4 linked regions of the Homo sapiens genome follow. The protein of the gene in region 1 purifies or fractionates together with the protein of each later gene. This does not show direct contact. Each region holds a gene or a part of one and is shown in the gene's direction. Other genes may lie near its edges. The genes, in order: ASB1, RAD23B, ARL1 and CHCHD3.

Region 1 (4,123 bases):
ACTTCACCTTAGGGAGCTTCCAGTGATTGATTTTAGGAGGCCCACACCAAACTCCCCAGGAAATGACTGCCTTCCTTGGGACCAAGGACCGTTCCAACAGCATTCACTGCCAGTTCTAATAGGCGAGGAAAATGCCCGAGGCGCTGTCTTCTGTCCCCCACACGTACCAGAAAGTGAAAAATGCAGCGAGTCCTCTGGGTGGTTATGAGCCTCCAGGCGCATGCTGTCCAGTGGACAGAACATCTGGCGGTTGGTTGATTGCTCTCTTTTGTCTTGGTCGCTGCTTCTAGAATCTATGCAGGGGATAGCAGTGAGGTCAGAAGTCTTTCCCGGGAGAGAGATGGCCTGGGTTATCATTGCTGATAGCTTTGGCTGCATGAGTTGGGCTTCCCCTTACCCAGGGCTGCACAGCCAGGTGTGAGGGTCACCGGCAGGTGGGCTGGTGGCTGCAGCCTCAGAGCCCTCCCAGGTTGCTGCTGTTTCCAGTGAATCACATTTCGTCATTTGAAGCCCATGAGGACCATTGTGTGGATCCATGGTGATTCTAGACTTCAGATATATTTAGGAAGGCGCAGATTTCAAATCTGTGTTTGATTTTCTGTAATAAGAGAAATCCAATTTGTAAAACTTGAACAATGATACCGTTTTATTTACTTAGTAGCATCACTGTGTGTCTTAGCAGGCAGGCAGTGTCTGGCCATTATTGCGTTCTACAGCCAGAGGATAGAATTCTATACCCCCAACCCCTTGTGTCACAAATGGGCTCTGTGTGGGTCACCCCAGCTGACCCGTGTATGTGCAGATGCAGTTCCGAAGGGAAGAACAGTCCTCGGGTGATTCAGAGGGGAAAATGCAATCCGGGAGGTGTTTCCTCAGCTGAGGTGACACTGTTAGAAGCTGTGATGGTTGTGTAAATGTGGGCTGTGTGCTGTTCCCGAGGGGAGCTTGGGATTGGGTCCTGCTGAAGCCAGGAGGGTCTTCCCAAGATAGGAGAGGAACCGCAGGTGGTGAGCGGCTGGGGAGGGCCAGGACAGCCGGGGCTGGGTGCTGCAGGGGCTTCAGCCCGGGAGAGGGGGTGGGCGTGTTCTTTGTGGTACCAAAGTGGGACTAGGACAAAAATTGGGCTGTGGCTGGGGCAGGAGCTATAGGGAGTTAAGGAATGATGATACGGAAGTTGGAGCCACCACCGTGGACTGGGCCTTGTCACTGGAGGTCGTAGGCAGTGGCTCATCACCCTGGTAGGGCTGATAGGGGCTTTCAGGGAGGCTGGTTAGCTCCCTGCACTCTGGCTCTTTACTGGCTTACTGTTTAGCTCCTCCCACCTCGAGGCTCTTCTTCCTGCCACCCTTTGGGCTCAGAGGAGGGTGGCTTTTTTCGAGGTGAGCCATGTTGTAGACACATGATACGCTCTGCGTCTGCTCTACTGAGTACTTTCTGCAGGGGCCTGTTAAGGACGAGGCCTCCCCAGCCCTGCCCGGTGCAGGAGGTGGCTCAGTTATTGAACCTTTTGGGAAGCAGCACCTGGGAATGCTGCCTCGTGGGAGTCCCATGCGTGAGTGTGGTGGTGTGACCTTCAGGCTGCACAGAGGCAAGGACCCAGATGTGGCAGCATGGGCGTCATGCTCCTTTGCACAGCCCAGGGCCTGTTTTGGAGGGACCAGGTCACTGCCCCTGGTCTCTCTAGGAGGAGTGGACTGAATGGATCGTTGCAGAGAAGACTCACCCAGACCTGGCCAGGGAATGATGTATCTGGGGAGAGAATGAGCTGGAGGAGGGGGCCTCTCATGGCCCTTCCCTGGCCTGTGGCCCAGCCTGGCTGGCCTGCAGGTGTCTAGGGTCTCAGCTTTTCATTTGCAGAGGACATGTTCAACTTCCTCTCTGTTCAAGCCAGCCTTTGCCAATTTTTTCAGAATCCAAACAATTTGGAGGTTTGGTATCTTGTTTCATAGCTGCCAAATATGAATCTGAAAACAGGGTGGGTAGCTAAGGTCATTCCTCCTGGGTTTTAGTGGCATTGCCTTCCTTCACTAAAGCTCCCTTTTTTTTCTGTTGGCAAGGACAGGTTACAGAATAGGAAGAGTAGCACTTTCCGCCTAAGCACTTTAGGAAATCACCTTTCTAAGCCCTGGGGCGCCCAAGTCCCATGGGACAGGGAAACGTGGTCCTCAGTGAGGCTGCTGCCTGGCTGGCCCGGAGTCCTCCCTAGGAGAGGGGCTCGATGGGCTGGGGGAAGGAGCCTGAAGGTTGCCCCTGGTTGCATCCCAGAAGCATCTGACTGTCACCACTGCCAGTGGCTGTGGAACAGTCCTGGGCCCTGGGCCTTGGCTGCTGTCAACAGATGGGCTGGGCTGGGCTGTGGTGGGGTGGGGGACAACGTTGGTAACTCTGAGAATTCAGCTTTGGAGTCCCGGGTGAGGGGTTTTAGATAAACCCATCAATATCACCCACATTCTGTGACTCTTTGCATCACTCGTGTTATTTATTTATTTATTTATATTCTGCCTTGTTCCAGAAAAGTGTTTAAGGCAACAATGCTTGTTTTTTGGTGTTTTCTTTTGACATTTGAAAATTTAGTACATTGTTAAAATGTACTTGTTAAACAGGTAATTTTAAAGAGAAGGAACAATTGTTTTTAGTAAGTTTTCTTTTTCCTTTTTCAATGAATTGATTCTTCAAATTAAAAGTTCTTGAGAGAAGGAGAGGAAGATACAGCAGACATAGGACTGAGCCAAGGAAGAGTCTGCCTGAGAGAGACGCTTGGCCTGTGCTTTGCTGCCATCCGTGCGGCCTTGGCCACATCCCTATTAACAGAGGCAGCTCCACTTCAGACAGGGACAAGGCTTCCTGCTGTGCCTTTCTGGCAGGGTTTTGTGGGGTCACATGGGAAGCAATGTGTTACGCAAGCAGTCTCCATGTGTGTGTAAACTGCTGTCCTGGTGACTTGTCCCTCTTCTTAGTGGAAATGCATTTGAGATGGTGACAGGGCTGGATGAACGTGTGACCCTGGGAGATCCGGGCTGGACTGTGGACCCCGATGGGCCAGAGTCCTTGTGGCCCACAGCATAGCACTGGGGACAGAGCGCTCTATGCAGGTGAGGCGTATGAGAACAGCATGGTAAATAATTGATGAAGTCACATTTGTTCAACTTAAAGGATTGTTCTTTATTCTGAAGTTATTTTCTTCCTTATTTGGATGATAAAATTTCCTTTTATGTAATGAAGGTAAAAGTAGAGGGCAATATTTTTGCTTTTTGAAATGCTCTTGGTTGCAAAACAAAATGTTGGTTGCTGTTTGTCAGCCCCAGAATTTCTTCTTAAGTTCGCCTGTCTCTGAAATCCCAAAGTCACGGAACCGCAGTCTAGCTGTGGTGCATGTTTACGTATTGGTGAGAAATTCCTCTTGGGTTCTTGAACAGCCTGTACGCTGGCAGGCAGCACTGCAGCATTTCTGCTGCTCATGGCCAAGAACGAGTCTGGAGATCGCTGCGTGCGGTTTTAGGAAGTGCCAACACCCGTGGTGATGGGCCTCTGGCCACCCCTGGATCCATGGGACACACTCACAGGAAGCTGATGTGGCCTTCTCGGTGAGGACTGCACCTTAACCTGGGCACTGGGAGCCTGTGGCCCCCCTGTATGTTGGTGATGACACTAGTGTGGGTCTTCTGGCTCTGGGGCTACAGCTTCTGCCTCCTCACCTGGCCGTCGGTACTCGGCAAGCAGGCCTGGCCTCCCGGGGCCTGGATCCCTACCGGCTGGGATTGGCCTCCTGGAAGTACCTGTTTGGGCCATGTGACCTCCTTTCTCACTTATGCCTCACTCCCCTCCTCCCGCTCCAAACCCGAACCTCTCAGTGTGGAATGAACGCTCCAAACCCGAACCTCTCAGTGTGGAATGAACGCTCCAAACCCGAACCTCTCAGTGTGGAATGAAACAGTTTAGATGTGTACATGATGCACGTGGGTGGGATTCACATCCCAGGAGAATTCCACGGAGAGGAATGTGCAGATTTTGAAGTGTACAGTGATGTGTGGAATAAATACTAGAAATTCTCAGCAGACAGTGGGATGGAGAAGTGAGTGGGGGCAGGAGGGGGATTTCTGTTGCCTTGACATGTCGTTGCTCA
Region 2 (4,123 bases), on another chromosome or scaffold:
GTGGGTTTTAATTAGTATGTGTTTTTGATACGACACCTTAGAATTCCAGTAAGAAAATAAACAATGAAAATTATGTTTTCTAGGGCAACGCTAAGTGTCCTGTTTCTAAGTTGTTGTGAGAACGAGGTAACCAAGGATATTAGAAATAGATCTAAAATAAGATAGGATCTTATTGAGACCTGTTTTTGGTCTGGTCACAGATTTGTCCTTGTTTAATTTTTACCTAGAAGGAACCAAGGAAATTAAGTAACTTACGTAGCCAGTATAGCAACTCTTGTGAGCTTGAGATGAGCATGAGCAAAAATGGAAGAAAGGACTGTGAGATAAGTGGAATCATGGGAATGATTCATTTGTTGAACAAGTAAATGTTTAGTGAGCTTTGCTGGCAGGACTGGAGGAGTACAGGGACCTGTAGAACGTGGTCTGGGGCTTCTGGGAGCCTTATTGACTTAGTCAAAGCTCATTGGCTATAGAGTAGGGGGATATACAAAATGGAAAGAGCAAGATAATTTGTTTTAAGGTGTTTTTATTTGCCCTAGTTTTAACAAAACTTTCTTAGACTTATTAGGCATTTTGTACCATTTACTTGACTATTACTGTGATACATTACATGACCACTGCCTTTAGTGTTAATCTTTGCAAAGATCTTTTTGTTTCTACAATTGTAATGCAAGCCTTCTTATAAAATATTCAAACAATATAGAAACAAAATGAGAAGGTGGTATGTGTGGGGTAGGGAGACCATTGCTAGGAGATTTTCTTCATTATGTGCTTTTTTTGTTTTTTACTGTAAAAATTGTGGGAGACTTTTAAGTAGCCTACATATTAAAGCATTTTGAGATGTGTGATAGAGCACTGCTTCTCTGAAATTCTTAAAAATTCTGAAGTTTAGGCTGGGTGTGGTGGCTCATGCCTGTAATCCCAGCACTTTGGGAGGCCGAGGTGGGCGGATCACAAGGTCAGGAGATCGAGACCATCCTGGTTAACACGGTGAAACCCCGTCTCTACTAAAAAAAATACAAAAAATTAGACGGACGTGGTGGCATGCACCTGTAGTCCCAGCTACTTGGGAGGCTGAGGCAGGAGAATCGCTTGAACCCAGGAGGCAGAGGTTGCAGTGAGCTGAGATCACTCCATTGCACTCCAGCCTGGGCGACAAAGCGAGACTCCGTCTCAAAAAAAAAAAAAAAAAATTCTGAAGTTTAATGGTGTGATGGACATTTAGAGGGAAATGGAATACAGTTTTTAAGCTCAGTTTTATAGTCAATTAGTGTTTTATATTACTGTTGCTTAAAAACATTAAGAAAGGTAGATTTAGGAATAAACCTTTTGAGATAAAAAAAATACAGTGCAGTATTTTATTGCATCACTGAAATGGTGACAAGAAAAAGTATGTGATATACAAATTAATCCTGCAGTCTAACTCTTGACACTGTTTGCCTTGAACAACTAAAAACAAAACTCAGTAAATTTGAGATGAGACTTTAAATGCAAAAGCTGAAATGTGATTGGATTAGTATATAAGTGACATTAAAATTCTACATATACATTGGATGTTTTTGCTAAGAGAATTGCAAAGACATCAGTTTTAATATCTATAAATAGCATATTAGTGTGCTGTGAAGAATTACCTAATTTCGTGGTTTACCTCTATAATGTGATTGTTATAAAATACTGCTTTACCCAGCACCTTGGGAAGCCGAGGCGGGTGGATCACCTGAGGTCAGGAGTTCCAGACCAGCCTGACCAACATGGTGAAACCTGGTCTCTACTAAAAATAGAAAATTAGCTGGGCATGGTGGTGCATGCCTGTAATCCCAGCCACTTAGGAGGCTGAGGCAGGAGAGTCGCTTGAACCTGGGAGGAGGAGGTTGCAGTGAGCTGAGATCGCACCATTGCACTCCAGCCTGGGTAACAAGAGCGAAACTCCATCTCAAAAAAAAAAAAAAAACAAAAAAACTGTGTGTGTATATTGCTTTAGTACTTGCTCTGTATTATACAGTATTTACTAGCCATCATTTATTAGTGAAGTATTCCTGTGGTGGTTTATTGTATTTTCAATATAGTCATGCTAGATACAATTTCATATTATACAAGCTTCCTAGATTAAGGTAATGAGTAGTAAATGTATTAAAAATACTATATCACAGAGGTGAAATTAAGAGTTCTTGGCATATTGGCAGAACAAGATACAGGAAGAAACTGAGAAATCTGGTACATTTTTGCCAGACTTTTGCTGTTTTGATGCCGTGCACACAGTAGGCATTTAGTAAAGATCTTTGAATGAACTGAATATATTCTTTTGGTGAACTGGCAAAGCAGTGATCCCCCAACGTAGTGTGTTTGCATGTTGATTTATTTATTTAATAAATATTTGCTGTGTACTTACTAGATGTCAGGCCCTGCTGTGATGGTATGTGCATTCTAGTGGGATAAAACTGTCAAAAAATACATTTTAAAAACCAGGTAATGGTAAGTGCTATGCAGAAAGTTGAAATAGGATAAAGTATTTGATAATACTTCACTGGGTGGCTACATTTTTGTTGTTGTTTTGTTTTGTTTTTGAGATGCAGTCTTACTCTGTAGCCCAAGCTGGAGTGCAGTGGCGCCATCTTGGCTCACTGCAGCCTTCGCCTCTGGGGCTCAAGCGATTCTCCTGCCTCAGCCTCCCAAGTAGCTGGGACTAGAGGTGTGCCCCACCACACCTGGTTAATTTTTTTGTATTTTTAGTAGAGACAGGGTTTCATCATGTTGCCCTGGGTGGTCTTGAACTCCTGAGCTCAGGAGATCTGGGTGGCTACTTTTAAATTTACTAGTCACTGAAGGCCTTTCTGAATAAGGTGACATTTAAGCTGAGAGCTGAGTAAAAATGAGCACTCGAGAATGAAGAGAATGTTTTCTATAGGGAACTGCTAGAGCAAAGACCTTTAAGAATGTGTTTTGGGTACTGAAAAAAAGCCTGCATTGCTAAGGTGATGGGTAAGAGATAAGGGTGAGTTGGGTAAGAGATAAGAGAGTGAGTTAGGCAAGTGAGTTAGGCTAGGGGTTTTCAGGGTAAACTTGGAAACATTTACAAGCAGGACAGAAATCTTTGTTTCTTTGTCTCTGTCTCTCTTTTCTCTTTTTCCCTCCCTTCCTCTCTCCCTTCCTCCCTCCCTTCTTCCCTTCCTCCCTCCCTTCCTCCCTCCTTTCCTCCCTTCTTCCCTCCCTCCCTCCCTTCCCCCTTCCCTCTCCTTTCCTCTCCTTCCCTCCTTTCCTCCCTTCCTTCCCCACTCCTTTCCCTTCCTTCCTTCCCTTCCTTTTTCAACAAGGTCTTGCTCTGTCACCCAGGATAGAGTACAGTGGCATGATCATAGCTCACTGCAGCCCCAAACTCCTGGGCTCAAGTGATCCTCCACCCTAAGCCTCCCCAGTAGCTGGGACTACGGGGGCATGCCACCACGCCCAGCTAATTTTAGTTTTTTTTTGTAGGGATGGGGTCTTGATGTTTTATCCAGGCTGGTCTCCAACTTCTAGCCTCAAGTGATCCTCCTGCCTCAGCCTCCTAAAGTGCTGGGATGACAGGCATGAGCCAGCACACCTAGCCAAGAAATATTTCTTGTAGGATTTTTAAAGGTTACTTTGATGCTGTGGGGTGGGCAAGAGTGAAAAGCAGAGACATCAGTTAGGGGGCTTGTGCAGTAGTTTTAAGTAATTGCAGCTTGAACCAGGGCAGTAGGAGTGGAGATGTAGAGAAGTAGATGGAATTAGGATATGTTTTGAGAGGTACAGTTGGCTGTACCACTTGCTGTGTCACCTCAGGCAAGTTACTCAGTATGTGCCTTTTGGTCCTCTGCTGTAAAATGAGAATACTAGTATGAAAGTACTAACTTATTGGTATATGGGTTTTGAAATAATATTAACAGTGCTTGGCAATGTGGTACCACTCTCCCTCCATTGTTCTTGCTTAGAAAGCCTCAAATGTGATTAAATTCAACTCAGTGTTTGTACTTGCACCTGAGTGGCCAGAGATGCACCTTGTAGCCACATTGACTTGTCTTGCTTAAATTTATGAACATTAAGGAACTTAAGTTCATGAGCACTAAGGAACATTAAGGCACACTAAGGAACCTTAATTGGGTCC
Region 3 (4,123 bases), on another chromosome or scaffold:
GCACCTGCCACCATGTCCAGCTAATTTTGTATTTTTAGTAGAGATGGGGTTTCTCCATGTTGGTCAGGCTGGTCTCGAACTCCCGACCTCAGTTGATCTGCCCTCCTCAGCCTCCTAAAATGCTGGGATTACAGATGTGAGCCACCGTGCCCAGCCAATGTTTATCAACATTCTTTTGACTCCATCACATCTGAGGGATATGGTACATATATCCACCAGAAACAGTGAATCATTAAGGCATTGATTCTAACATGTGTGGGACAGAATTGGCAATTGATATGTCAGTTTCTTCCTTAAAACAATAACAATATGTTCTCCCCTTTTAAATTTTCTCTAGGCCATACTGGAGATGTTACTATTCAAACACAGATGCAGTCATTTATGTAGTAGACAGTTGTGACCGAGACCGAATTGGCATTTCCAAATCAGAGTTAGTTGCCATGTTGGAGGTAAGAAAACGTAACCACTTTAAAATGTGGGGCAGTCATTTACATATTATTACATTGAAGAATAATTAAAAAGAATGCAGGGGTTGTTCCCTCCATCCTTTTAAAATTATTTTCTTTTATGGAAATGATTTTCTATTCCAAAAATACAGTTGAGGAGGGTTGGAGACAAAACAACAACAAAAATTAACCTCGTAACTTCCTCTTCAAGCCAGATTGCTTGATTTTCCAGGAGGTTCAGAAGAGCTCACTTAAACAAAAGCATCTATTCTAAGTCACTTCTTTGATGTGACTTTTAAAATATGTCTTTTTATTTTTAGCTGTTTTAGAAGGATTCAAGTTCAGAGAAATATGTATTTCTGGGTTACTGGCACAATGCTGGCCTCACGTTTATCGTTTTTTATCCTTCCCAGTGTTTACAGTGCTTTTGACCTTCTTTCTGTTCTTTGGACACGAGCTTGCACACCTGGCTCAGGGCCTTTTGCACTTGCTGATCCGTCTGCTTGGAATACTATTCTCCAGCATCTTTGCATGGCTGCCTTCCTGACGTGTTTCTTCCCACATCTCTTCCCCAGAAAGAAGTCTTATTTATTCTCTAATCCTTTACCCTTCTTTATTCTTTATACCGATATTGTTTCTTTTTTTTCTTTTTCTTTTTCTTTTTTTTTTCTTTTTTTTTGTAGAGACGGGGTCTACCTATGGTGCCCAGGCTGGTCCCAAACTCCTGTCCTCAAGTGATCCTCCTGCCTCGGCCTCCTAGTGTTGGGATTACAGGTGTGAGCCATTGCACCCCACTTACTGTTTTTTTACATTATTTTTAAATGTATTTGTTGGCTGGGCGTGGTGGCTCACGCCTGTAATCCCAGCACTTTGGGAGGCCGAGGCGGGCAGGTCACCAGAGATCATCAGGAGTTTGAGACCAGCCTGTCCAACATGGTGAAACCTCATCTCTACTGAAAATACAAGAAAATTAACCGGGCATGGTGGTGTGTGCCTGTAGTCCCAGCTACTTGGGAGGCTAAGGCAGGAGAGTCACTTGAACCCAGGAGGCAGAGGTTGCAGTGAGCCGAGATCGTGCCCCTGCACTACAGCCTGGGTGACAAGAGTGAGACTCTGTCTCAAAAAATAAAAATTAAAAAAAAATATATTTGTTTACTTATGTATCTCTCCCTCTAAAATGTAAGTTCTTTGAGTTTACCCTGATAGGAGGAACAATGTATAGTACTTAATTAAGAATTCAATACATCTTATTCACTGAAGTTAATAAGATCATATATTGGCTAACTGATCAAATTCAGAGGATGCATTAAATAATCCATTTTTAAAAAATGAAAAAATAATCAAATGTACTATGATAATAATAAAATTGCCCTTGCTCTGGAAAATTAGATGGATAAGTTTCTTTCTCTTGTCAAAAACTGGATTCTGAATTGTTTAATCAAGGGATGTTTAAATATAAGTTCTAGGCCAGTTGATACCTAGGTAAAAGCATCCTCAGACGAGGGGACTATGTACTTTTGAATTCTTTTTTTTTTTTTTTTTTTTTTTTTTTTTTAGACAGAGTCTTGCTCTGTCGCCCAGGCTGGAGTGAGTGGCGTGATCTCCACTCACTACAATTTTCGCCTCCTGGGTTCAAGCGATTCTTCTGTTTCAGCCTTCTGAGTAGCTGGGACTATAGGCTTCTGCCACCACACCCGGCTTATTTTTGTATTTGTAGCAGAGATGGGGTTTCACCATGTTGGCCAGGCTGGTCTCGAACTCCTGACCTCAGCAGTTTGCCCGCCTCCTGATCTGCCAGCCTTGGCCTCCCAAAGTACTGGGATTACAGGCATGAGCCACCGCGCTCAGCCCAGGACTTTTGATTTCTTGAACTACTGACTTAATGGCTTCCAAGTTATAAATTGCAGACTTAATAGTTTTAAACATTTGGTTAATTTTTTTTTTTTTACATCATAGCATTATATTTATTATAAGAGCTTCTTAGACCAAATTTAAATGTAAGGATAAGGTTTAATTGCCTTGGGTATAATAGGTTTTTTAAAGAACAGTTTTATTTAGGTATAATTCACATGATATAGTGTATTTTTATCATATAAAGTATTGCTTAAAAGGAATGGATTATTGACTTCAGTTTACAATTTTTGAGTTGTGCAGGATTGTTGTTACTTGCAGTGTTAGGATTTGACTTATAAAGTCTTACAGAGAAAGAAGTAAAAGTTGGATTCTTTCTTTAGGAAGTCACTTTTAATTCATCAATAAATATCATGTTATGTTAAGTATGGGCCAAGTACGAGTCAGGACTGTTAATGTTAAAACATATAGACACAGGCCAGGTGTGGTGGCTCACGCCTGTAATCCCAGCACTTTGGGAGGCCGAGGCAGGTGGATCACTTCAGGTCAGGAGTTTGAGACCAGCCTGGCCACCCATATCTACTAAAAATACAAAAATGAGCCGGGTGTAGTAGCGCACGCCTGTAATCCCAGCTACACGGGAGGCTGAGGCAGGAGAGTCACTTGAACCCAGGAGGCGGAGGTTGCAGTGAGCTGAGATAGTGCCACTGCACTCCAACCTGAGTGATGGAGTGAGACTCCATCTCAAAACAAACAAACAAAAAATATATAGTATAGACACAAAAGCAGTTTAGGTTTCAACTTTTTTTTTTTTTTTGAGACGGAGTTTCACTATTGTTGCCCAGGCTGGAGTGCAGTGGTGCAATCTCGGCTCACTGCAGCCTCCACCTGCCAGGTTCAAGCAATTCTCCTGCCTCAGCCTCCTGAGTAGCTGGGATTGCAAGCGCACACCACCACACCCGGCTAATTTTTGTAATTTTAGTAGAGACGGGGTTTCACCATGTTGGTCAGGCTGGTCTTGAACTCCTGACCTGGTGATCCACCCACCTCAGCCTCCCAAAGTGCTGGGATTACAGATGTGAGCCACCGTGCCTGGCCTTTCAACTTTCCTATACACAAAAATGAATTCTAAATGGGTAAATAATTAAATGTAAAAAATGAAAATTATAAGAACATATAAGGAATTCAAAAGATGAGATTTAATTATATTAATGTAAACAAAACTCCCCCAAAGCTCAGATATGGCAAATATAAACAAGATTAAGATAAGAAACCAGGCCTAACCAGAAGCCAATGACTAAGGATTAGTGATCTGAATCATAGCAAGATCTTTTGCAAAATGAGCAAAAGGCAATTCGTAGGGGAAAAACATTGCTAATAACATTTGCATTTGTTTTTAAAGAGACAGGGTCAGCAGGGCGCGGTGGCTTATGCCTGTAATCCCAGCACTTTGGGAGGCCGAGGCGGGTGGATCATGAGGTCAGGAGTTCGAGACCAGTCTGAGTGACCAACATGGTGAAACCTCATCTCTACTAAAAATACAAAAATTAGCTGGGCGTGGCAGCGGGCACCTGTAGTCCCAGCTACTCAGGAGGCTGAGGCAGGAGAATCACTTGAACCCAGGATGCAGAGGCTGCAGTGAGCCAAGATTGCACGACTGCAACTTCAGCCTGAGCAACAGAGCGAGACACTGTCTTAAAAAAAGAAAAAAAAAAAAGAGACAGGGTCTCCCTCTGTCCCCTAGGCTGGAGTGCAGTGGCACAACCAAAGCTTGTTATAACCTTGAGCTCCTCTCTCTGCTTCCTTTTTTGTTTGTTTTTTAAAAA
Region 4 (4,123 bases), on another chromosome or scaffold:
AATGGAAACTAATTCCTATAGGAAAGTTTACTCTTTAAGATGTTTAAGAAGTATGACTTTGGAAGTCAGATCACCATCTTTCACACCTCTGTTGTACTTCTCAGTTTTTCTCATGTTAAAAATGGAGATAGTAGCTGGTGTGGTGACTTGTGCTTGTAATCTCAGCACTTTGGGAGGCTGAGGTGGACAGATCACTTGAGCCCAGTTCAAGACCACTTGAGCCCAGTTCAAGACCATGTGGACAACATGCTGAAACCTCGTCTCCACAAAAAAAAAAACAACCCAAAAATCAGCCAGGCTTGGTGGCATGCAACTGTGGTCCCAACTGCTTGGGAGGCTAAGGCAAGAGGATTGCTTGAGCCTGGGAGGCAGAGGTTGCAGTGAGCCGAGATCATGCCACTGCACTCCAGCCTGGGCAAGAGAGCAAGACCATGTTTCAAAAAAACAAAAAACAAAAAAACTAGAGCTAGTAATGCCTCCCTTATGGAGGTGAATGAAGTTCAATATGTTAATGCCTTGCTAAAGTTATCTTTAAAATTCTCTTTCTACTTTCTTAAAAACTTGAGGTTCTTTAGAGTAAAGTCAAACTGGCTAGTTTTTACCCTGGGACTAAAATATAGAGAACTAGATTTTATACCTGCTGTCCATGAAAGTTGAATGTTTTATAAGTAGTTAATTTGTTTTCCCATTTAAAAGGACATGTAATAATATTTATTATAGGAGATTTGGCTGGCTTTTAGGAATTCATTTTGCTGGTGTACCTTAAGTCCCTCGCCTGATTGACAATATACTGAGGAAAGAGCTAAGTTGCTAGGGCTTGAGGTCTAAGGGCAGCACTGACTGGTATTTGTTTCATTAAGCTTAGGCAAGCTATCCAATTACTTAATGCAAACAAGAAAAGTTTACACTAAACTCCTACTTCTTTGCTTGAAACTCTAGAGAATTTAAATGAGGAGAGATATGTATTTAAAAGAAAGAAATTTAAATGAAACTTAAATCAGGGACTTAATGTAGAATATATTAGAGCAGGAGATCTAAAATATTAAGTGGGAAATGCCAATAAATAAAAAAGGAATGTATTCTCTAAGATACTTGGCATGTTTAGTTTTGTTTTGAGATAATTCTTAAATCTTTGGAAACCCAAGTTAATAATGAGAGACTTATTTTATCTCCTGCCTTTACATATAAAGTCCTGCCTTCCCTTGGTCAGTGAGAGCCTGGGTCTTCTCTCCTTAGTGAAGTGTTCCCAAAACAACATGGCTTCTGATTTTATAGCTCCACTATCTGGGCAGTAGTTTTCAGAGAGGCCCAGATGGCAGGGCTGTCTTATTTGGTTCAAAAAGAGAAAAATTGGTTGACAGCTCATCTACCTTTTGCAGATGGCTGTTGAATAGTATAGCTCCATGCGGTATAAAACCAAGGGGCCAGAGAGGAAGCTTTGAAAGTAATTGGGGGTTTCTGAAAACATAAGCAGTTTTTCTTTGCAAAGTGGTTTTGGCTCAGTAAAGAATTTACAGGAACCATTGAAAGAGGAAACTTAGAAGAAAATAATTGCCATGCAATATTTTGGAGGGGAGGGTTGGGGAAATGGAGAATGGTACAATTTTGAAGTTTCAAATCTATTGCTTTTAAATGGGAAATGGTACAACTTAGAAGCTTCTCATCTTTGGGCACTGGTCAAAACTGAACCTCAGTCAGTATACCATTGAAACTCTGTCCTCCAAGAGAATCTGAAAGCAAGTAAAATTCTTTGCAGAGGTGATTTCATGCCTCAGAGACCCTTCTAAGTGTCACAGGAATCTAACTGAAGGAAATCCTTTCTTGGTGCTTCTGGACCCAACTGATGTTTCCTCTGCCTAAGACACTTTCTCCTTCCCCATGTTGCTCAGTTAATGTCCTGTAGAGCTCAAGTTAAATATCAGTCCCACCCATGCAGTGTCATAGATACCTACCTAACTTTTTAAAAATAATGCATCTGTTATTTGTAATCATGGCTCATGAAAGTAGGGACTGTGTCTCTTGCTCACTACTTCATTCTCAGTAACCAGAGTAGTCCCTTTCACCTAGTAATTATATACTGAATAAATTTATGAATTCCAGTGTGTAGTTTTTGTTGAGTACTGTAGTGAGAAATCTCAGGATTACAGTAGAAGTATATGTGCCCATCGAGTAGAAATTATAACAGTATCAAGCTGGGAGATAATATAATGCCCCTCTGTTTTATTTATCCCCTGCCACCACCTTTTTCAAGATTTTTTATGGAATGAGGAATAATATGTTTAAGGTATAGACTTTTTAGAATGTTTATATGCAAAGGACCATAAGATTATATAGTAGTTCAACCTTCAAATTTTAAAACTGAGGAAACTGAGGCTTATTAGATTGTACAGCTAAGTTGTTGATAGGAAATGAGAATTTGTTCAGAGTCCTACTGCCAAACTCCCTGATGACAAAAAATTTGGTTTCTTAAACAGTCACCATACAGACCTTAAAAAAAGTTTTTTTAAAATTTATAAACATTCCTTTAAAAACATTTGAGAATTTGTGCAGTTCTATTTGTAAGGATGAATGAAAGTATAAGAATTTATTAAGAAAGGAAAATAATATTCTTTTTAGTCAGTTTGCACCACTGCCAATCCTCTTTCAATCCAGGTGTCAAATATAGTTAGGTGTTGATGTTGGAGGGGCTCTGGACTGTTGTGGCACCTCCTGTTGTAGGCTATTTAATGTAGCCTGGGATTATATCACAGATGTGCCACATCTAACATGGTGGCTAAGCCCTTGGAGGATACAGTTTGTCTCGTTAGTTGTTTCTTATATACCATCGCCTTGTGTTCTTTTGCAGTTTGTTTTCCTTGTTTTGTTTGTGGTTAGAAATATGCCATTTATTTATTTATTCATTCATTCATTCACACATGCATACATCAACAACTTTTTCTTGCGTGTTTGATATGTGGCAGGCACTTTTATAAGTATGGGGGATATAGCAGTGAACAAAAATAGGGCAAATCGTTGTCCTTATGGAGCTATGGACAAGAGGGAAAGGAAGCAGCTTGTGAAAGGGTCTAGCTGCTGGAGTTAGTAGAGTCAATTTGTGATTTTAGAAGTCCTTAGAGATCATAAAAATAAAGCAGAATTTATTGGTGAAAAATTGGAAAAGATGATGGAGATGGCATTGTAGTTAGTGAATTTGGAGATTGTCTTCTTCATTTCGTAAAATCACTGCTTTCTCTGTATTCCTACCCGCATAGTGGGTACTATTATTATTACTGCTACTTACCTAACATTTATTGAGTGTATATTATGTTATGGGCATTGTGCTGAGTGCCTTGTTTATATAGAACGCTGTAAGGTAGGTATTACACTATTTCATTTTACCCATGAGAATAACAGGACTCACCGGAGATTAAATAAAGTACTTATTCAGATAGGAAGTTTAGAGCCTTGATTTGGACCCAGAGTTTGCATATCTGTACCAGTCATGGCAAGCTAAATATGTTTATTTTTATTATCACATTGAAGGCTTTTGTGCTCATGTTTTGCTTCTTTTTCATTAACTTGCCAAAATCCTTATGATCCTGTATTTCTTAAAGTTGAACCATGTAGAACTCCATATGTAATTAAAATCTAAGCCATACATAAGTAAACTAAAATGGAAAAAAAAAGTAGTAATTTTTAAACAGTACTTTAAAATTAGATACACCAAATGTGGTAGATGTGATAATTCAGTTGAACAGAATTCATTTTATGTTCATGAACTAATAATAGAATTTGAATAAACATTTTATATATGTTTGTAAAGTGCCTAGCACAGTGCTTAGTAGTTGATCCATAAATGATAGTAATTTTATTATTTTATTTTAGTTTCCACCTCACTGGTAAAAATAGGTAATGCTTTTTTACTTAGGGGTAAGATGTCCATACAAATGCGTTAAATACAGTATTGTAATCTGATATGATAACCTCAGCAGTTATTTGCACAATATTCTCATGGGGAGCACTTCATTTTTGATGTTACTTTCATTTACCTCCAGGATTTATTTGAGTACAAGTGTATTTTGGTAATTAAGGGCTGTAGTCTTAAACTTTAGCATGCATCAGAATTCTAGAGGGCTTATGAAAA

What was found.
Region 2: the proteins of ASB1 (region 1) and RAD23B purify together in Homo sapiens (affinity purification with mass spectrometry, with the first as the bait; one large-scale study listed by BioGRID). This does not show direct contact.
Region 3: the proteins of ASB1 (region 1) and ARL1 purify together in Homo sapiens (affinity purification with mass spectrometry, with the first as the bait; one large-scale study listed by BioGRID). This does not show direct contact.
Region 4: the proteins of ASB1 (region 1) and CHCHD3 purify together in Homo sapiens (affinity purification with western blotting; one study listed by BioGRID). This does not show direct contact.

The regions. Positions count from the first base shown.
Region 1 is NC_000002.12:238,447,168-238,451,290, forward strand, and holds part of ASB1 (ankyrin repeat and SOCS box protein 1), read left to right. Parts: 3' UTR 1-4,123. UniProt on the Homo sapiens protein: Probable substrate-recognition component of a SCF-like ECS (Elongin-Cullin-SOCS-box protein) E3 ligase complex which mediates the ubiquitination and subsequent proteasomal degradation of target proteins.
Region 2 is NC_000009.12:107,285,900-107,290,022, forward strand, and holds part of RAD23B (UV excision repair protein RAD23 homolog B), read left to right. Parts: intron 1-4,123. UniProt on the Homo sapiens protein: Multiubiquitin chain receptor involved in modulation of proteasomal degradation. Binds to polyubiquitin chains.
Region 3 is NC_000012.12:101,397,388-101,401,510, reverse strand, and holds part of ARL1 (ADP-ribosylation factor-like protein 1), read left to right. Parts: intron 1-337; coding exon 338-449; intron 450-4,123. UniProt on the Homo sapiens protein: GTP-binding protein that recruits several effectors, such as golgins, arfaptins and Arf-GEFs to the trans-Golgi network, and modulates their functions at the Golgi complex.
Region 4 is NC_000007.14:132,977,319-132,981,441, reverse strand, and holds part of CHCHD3 (MICOS complex subunit MIC19), read left to right. Parts: intron 1-4,123. UniProt on the Homo sapiens protein: Component of the MICOS complex, a large protein complex of the mitochondrial inner membrane that plays crucial roles in the maintenance of crista junctions, inner membrane architecture, and formation of contact sites to the outer membrane.